Regions from separate parts of the Homo sapiens genome. Here region 2 is linked to region 1. Evidence: fine-mapped expression QTL. Tissue or cell type: regulatory T cells. Region 1 holds a variant in brackets; the other region holds the start of a gene. All regions are shown on one strand. Distances are between the middles of the regions.

Evidence for each region. PIP is the estimated chance that this variant, and not a neighbour inherited with it, causes the effect.
Region 2: NHIP starts here. The variant in region 1 is fine-mapped to the expression of NHIP in regulatory T cells (Schmiedel 2018, PIP 0.95).

The regions. Positions count from the first base shown.
Region 1 is chr22:48,283,416-48,291,521 of GRCh38, reverse strand. No RefSeq gene overlaps it. Among named protein-coding and RNA genes, the nearest start is that of MIR3201, 13 kb to the right of the region's middle. The variant A/G (reference allele first, on the strand shown) is at 3,422.
Region 2 is chr22:49,048,602-49,056,707 of GRCh38, reverse strand. NHIP (neuronal hypoxia inducible, placenta associated) reads left to right here and starts at 4,323. Exons shown (of 4, transcript NR_183584.1): 1 at 4,323-6,352; 2 at 6,505-6,952; 3 at 7,245-7,313. RefSeq lists an enhancer at 4,277-4,356 and a silencer at 7,945-8,101.

The DNA of each region.
Region 1 (8,106 bases):
CAGGTTCAAGCGATTCTCCCGCCTCAGCCTCCCGAGTAGCTGGGATTACAGGCCTGCACAACCACGCCCAGCTAATTTTGTATTTTTAGTAAAGACGGGGTTTCTCCATGTTGAGGCTGGTCTTGAACTCCTGACCTCAGGTGATCCACCCTCCTCGGCCTCCCAAAGTGCTAGGATTACAGGTGTGAGCCACTGCGCCCGGCCTAGAAATATCTTCTATTTCTTGTCTCTCTCTTGTTCCAGAGGTGCAGCCCTGAGGCTTTGTGTGAGGCACAGGCGGCCAAGTGCTCAGATGAAGGCCATCCCAGGGCAGATCCAGGCTGCTCCACGTTGACATAGCCAAGCAGCTGGTGCGTAATAACGCACACCAAGTGTCTCTGCAGACATTAGGACTTTTAGAGCAAAGCTTTTAATATTTTCCTTGAAAAATCTTTGATCATTTTGCAAGAGAGTGCTCATGAGAAGTTTTGAGTGAAGCGTGCTTCCTCAGTACCATTCTCAGTACTTGGCTTACCGAGGGTCTGGCACCCATTCTCACTAATGTTTCAATGACTAATTACAACTTGGAGCAAAGATGTTCAAATTTTGGAATGTGTCAGAGTCTCCCAGAATACGTGATCAAAGATCCAGATTTCTAGGCTCAATCTCCTGATTCTGATTCAGCAGGTGTTGGGTGGGGCCTAGGGATCTGAATTCATTGAAACCCACTGCCCAAAGTTGTCACAAGTCATTGATTCATCAGCTATACTCATTTAAGTTAATTCTGAAGGCCTAGGAAGCTGAATTCGTTGAGACCCACTGCCCAAAGTTGTCACAAGTCATTGATTCATCAGCTATACTCATTTAAGTTAATTCTGAAGGCCTAGGAAGCTGAATTCGTTGAGACCCACTGCCCAAAGTTGTCACAAGTCATTGATTCATCAGCTATACTCATTTAAGTTAATTCTGAAGGCCTAGGAAGCTGAATTCGTTGAGACCCACTGCCCAAAGTTGTCACAAGTCATTGATTCATCAGCTATACTCATTTAAGTTAATTCTGAAGGCCTAGGAAGCTGAATTCGTTGAGACCCACTGCCCAAAGTTGTCACAAGTCATTGATTCATCAGCTATACTCATTTAAGTTAATTCTGAAGGCCTAGGAAGCTGAATTCGTTGAGACCCACTGCCCAAAGTTGTCACAAGTCATTGATTCATCAGCTATACTCATTTAAGTTAATTCTGAAGGCCTAGGAAGCTGAATTCGTTGAGACCCACTGCCCAAAGTTGTCACAAGTCATTGATTCATCAGCTATACTCATTTAAGTTAATTCTGAAGTCAATAATGCATGAACTATACAGAATAAGCTTGCTGTTTTACAAGAAAAGCCACGTCATCAGATTTATATGGCTCTTTTCTTTTTCAATAAGTCTTTGTTTCACACTTTATTCTTAGAGTCTAGCTCATTACCTGACCCATAAGAAGTCTTGATAAAGATTTGTGGACTGACTGGGTGTGTAACTGCCCCAGAATCTGACACCCAGAGGGTGCTCAGAACAGACACTAGGAATGAAATCAGGGCATCTATAGCACATGGTTCTCACTCAAGCAATGCCCAGGGACACTAAGTGAGGTCATCAAAAAAAAAAATTCAGCCATGAATGATGGCTTGGCATGACAATGCAAAGTGAATGATCATGTGTTAGAGACAAACTTTTAAGGAACTGTTATTTCTCCATTTTTCTATATTCCTTGTGTTTGCTAACTCATTTAATTAGATCATGTGCCATAAAGCAAAGTTCTTAGTCTATAGTACCTTAAAGTTATTGCCAAGTGTAGCTGTCAGTATAGACCTGGTTATGCTGTGATAACAAAAATGCCCCTGGGCCAGTGACTGAACCCAGCTTGCTTCTCACTGAGTACGTAGTCAGGGGCTGCTGTAGCCTCAGAGACTCAGGTTCACAGAAGAGCAATCTATCCCTGTGCTTTCAATAGCAGTGCCGCAGGAGATAGAGCATCATGGCCCTGAAAATGTTTGTCCGGAGCTGATACACATCAATTCTGCATACATTTCACTGGCCACAGGTTGAGAAGCAGACAACCTTCCCCACATCGTAGCAACAGGCTTCCACCCTACCTAACTGGCATGCAACCGTTCTGGGACACACATCTTTTGGTCTCTACCCATTCCAAATCATTTTCCCCTTCCCATCTTCATCAGTTTTTTGGGGGGTGATATGCTCCCTCCTCTTGTGCAGGTGAGGTTGATGCCTTCCCCAAAGCCCCAGCATGATCATATGCCTAAATCCTGGCTACTCAGAGACACAGTGCTAGGCCCAGGATCAAACCTGCTGGCTGAGAGGCAGCCCTAGGACTTTTGGCTGGACCATTAGGAAGGGGTGTTGCCTTCTACCTGAACTTGACCTCCTAGAAGGATAGAATCTTGTTGTCACCTGTGGGAAAGCCTGTCCATATACTGATGTGTCTCAATCTTTTCTTATTATTGACCCATGAAGTGATTTTTAGACAATTTTACTGCAGTCACTACTACCCACTTGTTATGTTTTAATAGTATTTTATATATATATATATATATATATATATATATATATATATATATATATATATATATTTTAATATACTGGGGCCTTTTGTGGGGTCCCAAAACCATTATAATAGCTAAGATTTTTTGCCCAGTAAGAGCTAATTTTGCCCCATTGTGGGAAAAGTCATCCCTGTTAGCATTTTTTCTGTAAATGAAGTCAGTTGGGAGGAAGGCAGAGCAGGAGGCCCTGAGGACGCCCGGGAGTCTGGATCTAGTGGTGCCAGAAGATCAGTCTGACCTTGAGACGTTCCAGTTATTCAAAACAATAAATTCCCTGTTTTGTTAATTGAGTCTGAGTTGCATTTCTGTTGCCTTAAGGGAAACAGCCCTTAATAATCCATAAATGTTTAAAGCATGCTATGTGAACTAAGGATCAGTGGTTCTAAAGTCCTCTTTCTTCCCCACCTTTGAACTAAGTCCTCCCTGACTCAGAAGCAGCTCATTTATGGCTATCCTAATGCCACCTTTCCATCTGACCTAATGATACCCACTTCACAACATCAGGTTCCTTTAATTCTCCTTCATCATGCCTTATTGGGCACCATCTTTAATCAATACATCTCCTCTGTTATAAATTGATCACTCGATCGGTTAATCATTTCCCTCAGTTTATCTGCGTATCCATTCACCCAGCTATCCAATTATCCATCACTCCCTCCATTGATCCACCTATACCTAGTTCCTCTTTCACTCACCCTTCATCCGTTTCCCATTGCTCCGTCCTCCACCTTTCTCTCCCTCTGGCCATCTGTCCCCTCCACCTCACAATGTTGATCTTGAGAAAATCTCCAGCGATTTTTCTCATTGCCAAGTCCATTAGTCAATGCTCTTATCACAGA[A/G]GATCCCACGGCAACACTGGATCCAGCTGACCCTTCCTTCTTTTCGCCGTTTTCCTTTTGGATTTTCTATCAGTGTGTTCTCCTGGTTTATTTTCTCTTCCCTGGGCTATTCATCGCACCCACTTTGCTGGCTCCTCTTTTAATTGATATTTAAAGGTTGGAGTACCTCAAAGTTCTTTGTCAACATCTATAATTCTGCATCAAGAAGCTGACATAACATCTCCATGTGCATGTAAAATGTGCATTTCAGGCTTAACGCTGGCAACATAGAAATTCAACTTTTGTTAACCCGCACTTTTATTTTTTCAATGCTCGTCTTCCCGGATTGATAAACCTCATCATTTTGCAATTGTTTAAGCCAGAAATCTAGGCATGATCACTGAATTCTCTGTCCTTCAGATGGCTTGAGCAGTTTTTTGACCTGGGAAGCTGACTTTTCCTGCAGAATACATCTTGAATCTCTCTGCTTCCCTCCCCCTGTCTCCGTTGCTGGCATTTTAGCCCCAGTCACTATTATTCTTACTTCACCTTAGACTTGGCCTTCGAGTTGCCTTCCCTTCTTGCTCCTCAATCCCTTTACCATACAGCAGCCAGAATGATATTTCAAACTCCCCTGATGACAATTATCCGATGGTTTCCACAACACCTAGAAGAAAATCCCAGTTCCTGCTTTCCAGAGCTCTGGGAGGGAGGATAAATAAAGCTGCAGAGCTGAGTCATGTAAATATTGAAATCTGTACGTGAGATACCGCAGGAGCCACGGCAACCCCAATAATAATCACTGGCTTGTATTTTCATGACACTTTAGCATTGACAGAAGCCTCTCCTGGTCCCTCTCCTGCAAGGAGCTGAGTGTTTCATCCTGGGCGCTGTCCATCTCATGTCCTTCCTGACTTCCCCATGAAAGCTGACATATGATGCTGTCTCTTACACCAGACAGTGGATCCTTAAAAGTAATGGCTGGGACTGTTTAATTGTTTCATCTTTGTAAACCTGACACAGTTTCTCAGTATATATGTTTTTCATTAACAGACTTATTTTTTTAGATTTACAGACATATCGAACAGAAAGCACAGAGTTCCCACATGTGCCTTTACTTTTCTCCATTATTAAAATCTTGCATTAGTGTGCTACATTTGTTACTATTAATGAACCAGTATTGATACATTGTAACTAACTAAAGCCCATAGTTTACATTCCGGTTCACTCTGTGTTGTGGGTAAAGCTCTCTGGGCTTTAACAAATGCAAATGGCAGTTACCGCCGATTGCTGTGCTTCAGAACACTTTCATCACAAAAAAATCCGCCGTGCTCCACATAAAAATCCGCCGTGCTTCACATAAAAATTCTCTGTGCTCCACATAAAATCCCTTGTGCTCCACATAAAAATCCCCCGTGCTCCACCTACTCATCACTCCTTGCCGTAGCTCAGACTTCTGGCTAGCGCTGAACTTTTACTATGTCCATTGCTTTGCCTTTCTCGGAATGTTATGTAATTGAAATCATACAATATGCAGCCTTTTCAGAGTGACTTATTGCACTTAGCAATACGCATTTAACGTTTCTCCATGTCCTTCCATGGCTTGATAGCTCATTTGTTTTTAATCACTGAGTAATATTCCAATGTGAGGCTGTATCCATTCATCTATTGAAGGACATCTTAGCTGCTTCCAGTTTTGGCAATTATGAATAAAACTGCTATAGATAGTTATGTGAAGCTTTTGTTTTTCTAAAGACACAATTACTAATTAACTGTGTGGTAAGAGTATGTTTAGGGCCTGTTTACCTTTGTGAGGAGCTGCTCAACTGTCTTCCAAAGTGGCTGTACCATTTTGCATCTTACCAGCAATGAATGAGAGTTCCTCTTACTCCACATCTTCAGCAGCATTGGCTATTGTCAGTGTTTTGGGTTTTAGTCATTCTAATAAGTGTGTAGTAATGTGTCATTGTTGTTTTATTTTGCAGTTCCCTAATGACATATGATATTGAGCGTCTCCCTTTATGCTTACTTGCCATCTGTGTATCTCCTATGGTGAGATGTCTGTTCATTTGAAAATTGGGTTTGTTTGCTTATTGTTGAGTTTAACGACTTTGGGAAATTGAGTGAAATAATTTCTCTGTATATTTTAAGTACAAGTCCTTTATCTGACATGTGCTTTGCAACAATGGTTTCCAAGTCTGTGGCTTGTCTTTTCATTCTCTTAACAGTGCTTTTCAGAATAGAAGTTTCAAATTTCAATGAAATGCAACATATCAATTTTTTTCTTTCCTAAATCATACTTTTGGCATTGTATCTTAAAAGTCATCTCCAAGTCCAAGGTTCCCTGGATTTTCTCCTGTGATATCTTCTAAAAGTTTTATAGTTTTGTATTTTCCACATAGATCTACAATCCATATTGAGTTAATTTTTGTGAATGATGTAAGGTCTGTGTCTAAATTCATTTTTTTTTTTTTTTGCATGTGGATGGCCAATTACTCCAGCAATTCATTGAAAAGAGCAGCCATTCTTATTGAATTGCCTTTGCTTCTTTGCCAAAGGTCAGCCGTGTTTGTGTGGGTCTATTTCTGAGCACTCCGTTCTGTTCCATGGATCTATTGGTCTGTTCTTTCTCTCATACCATGCTCTTTTGATTACTGCATCTTTATAGCTTGTCTTGAAGTTGGGTAATGTCAGTCCCCCAGCTTTGTTCTTCCTTTTTCAGTAATGTGTTGACTCTTTTAGGTCTTTGACTTTCTATATAAAATTTAGACTCAGTTTCTCAATATCCACAAAATAACATACTAGAATTTTGATTGGGATTGCACTGACTCTGTATATCAACATGGAAAAAATTGACATCTTAACAATGCAAGGCAGGTGAGCCCCAAAATTGGGGCTTAGCCTGGGAGGGTTTTGGCTTTGCCCAGGAAAGAATTCAAGGGTGAGCTGGTGGTGTTAAATAGCAACTTTTATTGAAGTGGACGTGTACAGCAACAGCAGAGGTGTTGCTCCCTGCAGAGCAGGGCTACCCCATAGGCAGTGTGCCCAGAGCAGCAGCTCAGAGGCAGTGCTGAAGGCATAGTTATACCCCCTTTTAGTTATATGCAAAATTAAGGAGCAGACAATGCAGAAATTTCTAGAAAAAGGGTGATAATTTCCAGGTTGTCAGGCCATTGTCATGGAAAAGGGCAGTACATTTTGGGTGTTGCCATGGCAATAGCAAACTGACATGGTGCTGGTGGGCGTGTCTCACGAAGAGGCGCTTTCACCTCTTCCCTGTTTCCTGTTTCAGCCAGTCTTCAATCTGGTCCAGAGTCCAAGCCCTGCCCCCAGAGTTGAGTCCTGCCTCCTACGTCATTAACAATATTAGGACCTTTTATCCATGAAAATGGAACATCTATTTATTTTGGTCTTCTTTTATTTCATAAGTTTCTTTTCCTTCCATAATCTTGAACACATTTTGTTAGATTTATAGTTAAGTATTTCACTTTGGGGGATGCAAATGGAAATGACGTGCTTTTAATTTCAAATTCCAGTTGTTCTCGTAGATAGCATATATAGGAAAGCAACCACCTTTTGTATGTTGACTTTGTATCTTGAGACTTTGCTTGATTGATCATGAGTTCTGAGAGGGGTGGGTGGGGTGTGTGTGTGTGTGTGTGTGTTTATTTAGAATTTTCTGTATAGACAATCATGTCATGTGTAAACAAGCACCATTTTATTTCTTCTTTCCCAGTCTGTATACCTTTCATTTTTTCTTGTCTTATTGCATTAACCAGGACTGCCACTATAATATTAAGAGCAGTGGTAAAGAACTAGAGTTGACAACTAGTAGTGAGCACAAAGTTGTTCATAACATGTCTTTATTATATTTTTAATGTCCATGGGATCAGTAGGGATGCCCTTTCTTTCATCTCTGAGATAAGTAATTTGCCTTTCTTTATTTCTTGGTTAGTCAGGCTAGAGGTTTATCACTTTTATTGATCTTGTCAAAGAACCAGCTTTTAATGCCATTGATTTTTCTGTATTGATTTCCATTTTAAATGTCATTGATTTCTGCTCTAATTTGTATTAGTCTTTTCTTCTGCTGATTTTAAACTTAATTTACTCTTCTTTTTAGAGCTTCTTAATGTGGAAACTTAGAATATTGATTTGTGATCTTCTTTTTTAATATATGCATTCAGTGCTATACATTTCCCTCTAAGCATTGCCTTCATTACATCTTGCAAACTTTGATAGGTCGTACTTTTATTTTCCTCAAAATACTTTACAGTTTCTCTTGAGATTCCTTTGACCCATGTGTCATTTAGCAGTGTGTTATTGAATCTCCAAATATTTTGATATTTTCCACCTAGCTTTTGTTATTGATTTCTAGTTTAGTTCCATTGTGGTCTAGAAAGCATACTTTCTATGATTTATATTCTTTCAAATTTGCTAAGGTGTGTTTTGTGGCCCAGAATGTCTATCTTGGTTAATGTCCCATGTGTGCTTGAGAAGATTGTGTATTTGGCTGTTGTTGGGTGAAGTCTTCTATAAATGTCAATTAGATCCAGTTGATTGATAGTGCTGTTTAGTTCAACTATGTCCTTATGATTTTGTGCCTGCTGGATCTGTCAGTTACTGAGAGAGGGCGTTGAAGTCTCCAACTTTAATAGTGGATTTGTCTGTTTCTCGTTGCAGCTCTTTGAGTGTTGCCTCTCCTATTT
Region 2 (8,106 bases), 770 kb before region 1:
AAAGTATGCAAGAATAGGGAGCTAAGAAAGTGTATTTTATTTTATTAAGGATCAAAAAAGTAAAGCAGTCTAGAGACATTTTCCACGAGAGGATGGCCCTGCAACCTCTGTGAGCCCTGCCCGCAGGGTCCAGGCTCCCAGTGTGACAGCAGACAACACCAAGGGTGCCCCAGCCCAGCACATGCAGCTGGATGACACTTCATGTCTGCAGTGTATGAAGACAACACCAAGGGTGCCCCAGCCCAGCACATGCAGCTGGATGACACTTCATGTCTGCAGTGTATGAAGGCAACACCAAGGGTGCCCCAGTCCAGCACATGCCGCTGGATGACACTTCATGTCTGCAGTGTACGAAGACCAGGAAGTGTCCAGAGTCACATCCAAAATGAAGGAAGTTTTATCCAAAGTGTCGCTATGGTTATGTCAAGGCGAAGGGTGTCTTAGTTTGAGCTGCAATCACTAATTACCATAGACTGGGGGCTGAAACACTAGGCATTTATTTCTCTCAGGTGTGGTGTCTGGGAAGCCCAGGATCATCACGGTGCTGACTCGGTGTCTGCTGAGGGCCCCCTTCCTGGCTTGGAGATGGCGCCTTCTCGTTGTGTCCTCAGTGGCAGAAGGGAATCATTTATCTTGTGTCTCTTATTCCAAGGTCACTAATCCTATTCGTGAGGGTTCATGACCTCATCACCTTCCAAAGGCCCCATCCACAAATAGCGTTACACTGCGATTAGGGCTTCAACAGAGGGATCTGGGGATTCACAATCATTCAGTCCATAATAGATGGAGAGAAAGAAAGGGAGGGAGGGAGGGTAGGGTGGAGGGGGCAGAGGAAGGGAGGAAGGAAGAGGGAGGAAGAGAGAGAGAGAGGGAGGAAGAGAGAGAGAGAGGAAGGAAGAGAGGGAGGGTGGGAAGGAGAGAGAAGGGAGGGATGGAGGGAGTGAGATGAATTTCCCTTTGAGAGTGATGCAGGTGCCGTCCCTGGTCCTCATCACAGAGGCTCCTGTAGAGGGGTCAGCCTGGGTGCTAAGGAGACCAGAACCCCGTGTCCCTATGCTCAGTAGAGGGCAGGGCACCGCTGGCCTGCAGTTGGGAGGTCCCCATCAACCCCAGCTTCCAGGAGACAGGGCCGGGGCACTCTCATTCACCATTGTGTCCTGAGTGCCCAGACATGATGGCACTTACTCAACATGGATGAAACGGAGAAGGACTTTCAGAGAAGCAGGAGACTCCTCTCCTGTCCCTGGCCCTGTCTCACTTTACGTGTCCCACATCTTTTCTGAAAGCCACCAGCCCACCCAGCTCCAGTCCTTCAACCTTTTCCAAACGTGTCACAAGTTCTCCAGGAATTACCTTCAAGCTTTCTTTTAATAAGCATTAATTTTGTCTTATTTTTAAATTGGCTCAGCTTGAGCACGGGTCAGAATGGAGTTTTTCATTGGCCCTCTATGAAACCTCAACAGAGAAACCTTGTAAAATGGGAAGGAGATTGTTGGAGTTAACATGTTGTGTAGGTTTTGTATAGTTGTAGAGGGAGTTAAAGTTACTAGGTACATTTAGATGTTGATAGGTTTAGTGTAGATATTATGAAATTTAGGTGTAATTGCTTAAAGAATAGAAATGATGTATACTACCTAAACCAGTAAAAAGCTCAAGAGAGCGACGTCTTAGAAGTACGGGTAGTACAAAGCCCTAAGTAAGGTTGCATAACTGAATTTAATACATTGTTAACTAAAAGAAATGCAAGTAAAGAAATTTATTAGAGAAAATATAGGAAATCTACCTCCCCAGGTGTCTACACATATGTAAAACATGCATTGTTGACAAGAGACATATCAAAAAGAACATAACATGGAAAGAATGAAAGCAAGATACAGAAAGTATGAGAAAAACACTAACCCAAGCAAGGCTGGAATCGCCCGATTATACCAGACAAATAGATATTAAATCAAACCACATTATCAAGAATAAAGAGAGCCACTGCATCACGAGAAACGAAATTATTTATCAGGGTCATAGCATAATTGTGAAACTTAGTATATTAACATAATTTCAAATGGATGCAATGGATAAAAACTCAAGGAGAAAAACACGAATACAAAATCATGATGAGAGTGTTCGACACAACTATCAATCCTAAAGTGGCTACACAGACCCAAAATTAGTAGCGAAGGATTCTTGTCAAGATAATTAATAAGTTTTCTATAATAGCTGCTTCAAATCTGTGAACCTAAGAATCAAGCATTCATGAGACATTTAGAAAAATTCCAACAATTACTAAAAAAATAAGTATTTATGGACTACATTCTCTGAACTCCACATATCGAAATTAGAAATAATGAGAAAAACAGCCCCATAAATATGGAACCATAAAAACCTATTTCTGAAGGAATCGTAAATCAAGGAAGATTACAATCAAAATTTGAAAATATTTGAAACACAATGACCACATAAATGCTGCATATTGAGACTTCTGGAGTGAATGCAGAGAATGCTTCACCTAGGAAGGGTCAGCAAACTGTCTCTGTGGAGGGGCAGGTAGTAGTGTGCTTGAGGCCTATTGCAAAGCAGGTGACTAGCAAAACTGTCTTGTGGAGGGGCAGGTAGTAGCATGCTTGAGACCTACTGCAAAGCAGGTGACTCTGGTTAACAATAATGTGTTGTATATTTCAAAATAACTAAGAGAATCAATGGATATATTAATTGGCTTTAATTAATCACTCCATGTTTTGCACATACATCCAAATACCACATGGCATTTCACAAGTGCAGATGATGATCATTTCCCATTTAAAAATATTATTACTAATATTTTTTACAAACAAAAATAAAAATATATTTGGCTTTGTGGGATAGTCTCTGTTGCATCTCCTCTTCTCTGCTGGATTGGTCAGAAAGCGAACACAGGCAGTATGAAAATGAAGAGGTGTGGCTCTGTTCCCGTAAGCTACGGTTAGCAGAAATCCCTCATTTACATGAAAATGTGTCACCTTTAACATATGTAGGAAGTAAGAAAAACTTTAAAATAAAGCTTGACTTAAAACATCAGAGAATAACAGAATAAACCTAAAGAAGCTAATGAATAGAAAATCTATAATTATGTCCTTAAATTCATAAAAACAGACACCAAGAAATAACAGAGAGGACCACTGTCTTATTCTGTTTTCTGCTGCTGTAATGAAATGCCACCGGCTGGGTAATTTATAAAGAAATGAGATTTATTTCATTCGCAGTTCTGGAGACTACAAAGTCCAGGACAATGGTGCTGGCATCTGGCAAAGGTCATCCCATGGGAGAAGGATGGAGGGCAGGAGCCAGGGCCTGAGTCCGAGCAGGAGAGGCCAGGCTCACTTTAGAAACCCCACTCTTGAGGTAACAAACCCACTCTCTCGATAATGACATTAATCTGTTTATGAGGGTGGAAGCCTGATATGGTTTGGCCGTGTCCTCACCCAAATCTCATCTTGAATTGTAGCTCCCATAATCCCCATGTGTCATGGGAGGGAGCCAGTGGGAGGTAACTAAATCATGGGGGTGGTTTTCCCCCAGGCTATTCTGACAGTACTTTCTCACGAGATCTGATGGTGGTTTTTTTTTTTTTTTTTTTTTTTTTGAGATGGAGTCTCGCTCTGTTGCCCAGGCTGGAGTGCAGTGGCACGATCTCGGCTCACTGCAACCTCTGCCTTCTGGGTTCAAGCGATTCTTCTGCCTCAGCCTCCTGCCTGGACTGGTATAGACACAAATGTGCTAACACTGAGTCTGAAAACACTTCCTTGGATCTTGGATCTAAACTCTCACTGCTTCTCTTCTGATTATAAACCATTTCACAGCCCCCGGCAGTTCAGAAGGCCCTGAGCCCAGGCGGGAACTCAGACTGAATTGCGATGTCATTCAGGCATTAAAAGCACGCATGGGCTCAGAGTGCTGCTTGCTTGACGTTTCCCGTCTGTGAAGCAATTTTATTTAAATTCTACGCAAAATAGAACCCTTTGCTCTTCTTCCCAGAGTCCTGCCCGGTGGGAAGTTCGCTGGAGGCGCAGCAGGGAGCAGCCTGGCTTTTCCTACGGGGTCATTAGAAGCCTCGCTGGGAGAATTTCCCAAATATTTTGCTGTTTGCTCAAACACACTTTTATATTTTGAATCCAGGCATTTGAGAGAGAAATCTGTAGCGTCTGAAGCATGGGTCTGTGGTTCTCAGCGGAACACACGGTCCCAAAAGGCCCTTCCCAAGATGGCCGGGGCTTCCGCCTGCCGCCCTCCCTCCCGTGGTGCTGAGCGCAGGCTGGGCGCGGCCACATCACCCTAAGGGCGTGGGTGTCGGAGTCTTGCAGGCTGGGGTCCCAGGTGAGAGATGCCAGCAGGGAGCTCTAGATGGGGAACTGGGTGAGCCTGGCTCGGTAAGGGCGTGCTCAGAACACCCCATCCCCGAACACGGTCTTGTGTGATAAAATGTCACGCAAGAAGAATCTGAAACCGCGAGAAGAGGAGGACACGGCCAGACTGCACCGAACCCCGGCACCTCTGTGGGGAAAAGCAGGTCAGGCTGAGCGGGGCCGGCGGGGACACGCGCTCCTGGGCTTCTCCAGAGTCTGCCGGGGCCGGGCCCGGGACCGAGGCTGGGACGCGCTGTGCAGTCCCACCCCTCACACCCCTCGCACGCCTGGAAACACCCTCGGGGTAACACAAGCCGGGGTTGAGTTTCTTGAAGAGAAGCTGGCTGCATCCTGGAGCCAGGGAAAGAGGAGCACAGGGGCCAAGCGGTCCAGGGCCACGGAGGAGCAGGACCCCTGGGGAAAGGCCCGGGTCTAGGCCGGGGCCAGGGGACCGTGGTGGAGACCTCAAAAATGGCAGAACACGGAAGCAGGGCGAGAAAAGTAAACGTAGTCCTTGCGGCAGTTTGAAATACACGCGGGTAAACGCTGGGTGACTCCGCCCGGATGCAGAGTGGGGGTCTGTGTCTCTCCCCACAGGCTGCAGGGACCGGGCTCTGGGTAACCAGCAGAAGGTAACAGAACGAGGCTGCTTTTCCTCCAGGCTGTTCTGGTGTCCGCGCGTGGCTTGTGCGCTGACTCCTGACTTGGAGCGCCGCGTGGCCAGAGAAATCTGGGTGCCTCCAGGCCACCATGGTGAGAGGAGAGGCCACCGCACGAACGGAAGAAGCGATGGAGACGGTCTTTACGACCTAAGAACAGAAAGAGTTTCTTATACACAATCCGAAAAGTAAAAATTGATTGATTGATTGATTGAGATGGAATCCCACTCTGTCGTCCAGGTTAGAGTGCAATGGCTTGATCTCGGCTCATTGCAACCTCCGCCTCCCGGGTTCAAGCGATTCTCCTGCCTCAGTCTCCCGAGTAGCTGGGATTATAGGCGCCCGCCACCACGACTGGCTAATTTTTATATTTTTAGTAGAGACGCAGTTTCACCGTGTTGACCAGGCTGGTCTTGAACCCCTGACCTCAGGTGATCCGCCTGCCTCGGTCTCCCAAAGTGCTGGGATTACAGGCGTGAGCCACCGTGCTGGGCCAAAAATCAATTTTAAAACGACCACATGAAAAATAAATCTCCTGTATCACAGAGCATGTTCTGAGGAAAATGAAAGCCACAGATCCAGAAGATATTTGTGACACATATGAAAAACAAAAACTCATATTCAAAACATACACAGCATTGCTATGAATCATTAAGAAAAATGATTTCGTCTCCTCTACAGGAGCCTGAGTGAAGGACAAGGACAGATCATTATAAACCAGGGAGCTTGAAGAGCTAGTTAACAAGCACAGAAAATATGTTCCCCCACACTGTTAATCAAGAAAATTAAAACTGTAATGAGATGCCGCATTGTATCCATGGGATTTCTAAAAGTACAAAGTTCCACAATACCCGTTGTTGACGGAGCAGGGAAACCGCAGGAGCCTGCAGGAGATGAGATTGTAAATGTGCAAGGACATTTTGGAGAAGAGTTGACAACATCTCACTCACGTGTATCAAGCCAAGTGCCGAAAGAAGAATTGGTTGTCATAAAGAAAACAGAAACCCAGAATGGATGTAGCTTATCCCTCCGATGGAAAGTTACAAAGAAGTTAAAATGAATGGGCTGCATCTCTGTGTAACAATTTGGATCAATATCAAAGACACATTTGTTAAAGCAAGGTGTACAATGAAACCTGCAACATGATTTGTCTGTTTAGTAAAACACAGAAAATCTAACTCCGCCTGGCTTACGAACACACACATGTGTTAGAATTTGGGAAAAGGAAAGGGAGGGAGGCCGGCTACACGTGAACTTTTGGAAAATCTCAGAGGGTCTGGGGCACCAGGTGGAGACCATGGCAGCCTTCAGGGATATGAGGTGAGTCCTTCAACTACATTTGCAAGGTTTTATTTCTTAGGAAAATATTTAAAGCAAATATTTCAAAAATGACTAAATCTGAGTGGTAGGGAGTCACTGTTTTATAGATTATTCACTTTTCCCTGGGCTTGGAATGTTTCGTTTTTTCAAAGGTCAAATGAGATGCTGCCTTTCCACCAGATAAAGATTTACCTGGTGCCTCTGTTACTGCCCAGCAGCGCCTGAGGACGTGGGGGCTGCTGCCCAACACGGAGGCTGGGCTGGCCTGGTCCGTGGGCTCAGGTTCTCATCCTCTGCACGTGCATCTGCCTCCTGTGCGTCTCTGTGCACACGCTTGTATCTGGATGCAGAGTCCTGTGCCCAGTGTACATGCACAGATGTGCGCATCTGGGTAGATGTGCTGGTTCGCTGTGTGAGCATGCACAGACCCTTGTTCACCGTGTGTGCGCATCCGTGCAGTGTGGACATCTGGACAGGACCCCGTGCTCCCTGTCTCTGCCGCTGAGATGTTTCCTAGCTGTGCACAGAATTCACTCTCCTACTGGAGGGCTCTGACTGAAAGCTCTGATGCGGCAGGCCTTCTCTTGACACTTGGTTAAGGTATGCCTCTCACATCTGTATGCCCACATCTGCTCTCCTCCCTCCCTCCTTCTCAGCACTTAGCCCTCTGATATGGTTTGCTGGCGTCCCCACCCAAATCTCATCTTGAATTGTAGTTCCCATAAATCCCCACGTATTGTTCGAGGTACCCCGTGGGAGATAATTGAATCATGGGGGTGGTTACCCAGATGCTGCGGTTCTCGTGTTAGTGAGTTCTCGTGAGATCTGATGGTTTTATAAGGGGCTTTTCCCCCTTTTTCTCGGCACTTCTCCTCGCTGCCGCCACATGAAGAAGGATGTGTTTGCTTCCCCTTCTGCCATGATTGGAAGTTTCCTGAGACCCCTCCAGCCATGCTGAACTGTGAGTCAATCAAACGTCTTTCCTCCATAAATTACCCAGTCTCGGGTATGTCTTTATTAGCAGTGTGAGAATGGACTCACACATTCTCCTAATGTAGTATACATGTGTTTGCTCATTTGTCACCATCTCTCCATCTCTAGTCTCTAGAATATGAGATCTGTAAGAACAGGGACACCTAGAATACGAGATCTGTAAGAATAGGGACATTGTCTGTATCAGGTGTTCATGGCTCAATCCCAGCACCTGGAACAGCATGAGGCACCTGGCAGGTGCCTGACAAACATTTGCAGGGAATATGTGTGCATGAACCTGCATGGGCAGGAACAGGTGCATAGGAACATGGATTGTGGACGTGCATGTATGTGCGTGCATATGTATACCACTATGTATACGTAGCTTATTGTGTCTTTGCAGTGAGGTTTTCAAACCTCTGTCTTGTTTCCAGGATTTCCTGAAGACACCATCCCAGTCAAGTGGTCTGCCTCATACTGAGCCACCAGACCACCCAGCATGTCCTCACCCGCGTGGACAGATGACAGGGGGCTCTGAGCATGCCCCAGTGCACCTTACGCACCTGTGAAGGTTGGGAGCCTGAGTGCAGCTCCTGTGGCACTGCCCGTGGCCAGGGAGATGCCTCCTCAGTGCTCCTGACCCTCGGTGGAGGACCGGCCAGCGTGTGTGCCGACAGTGTGTCCACACAGGTGTGCTGCGCCCAATGGGCAAGTCGGAAACAAAGGAAAATGCTCTCTGAAGGAAAAGGCAAAGCAATTTGGATTTCTGCGAGAAAATGAGA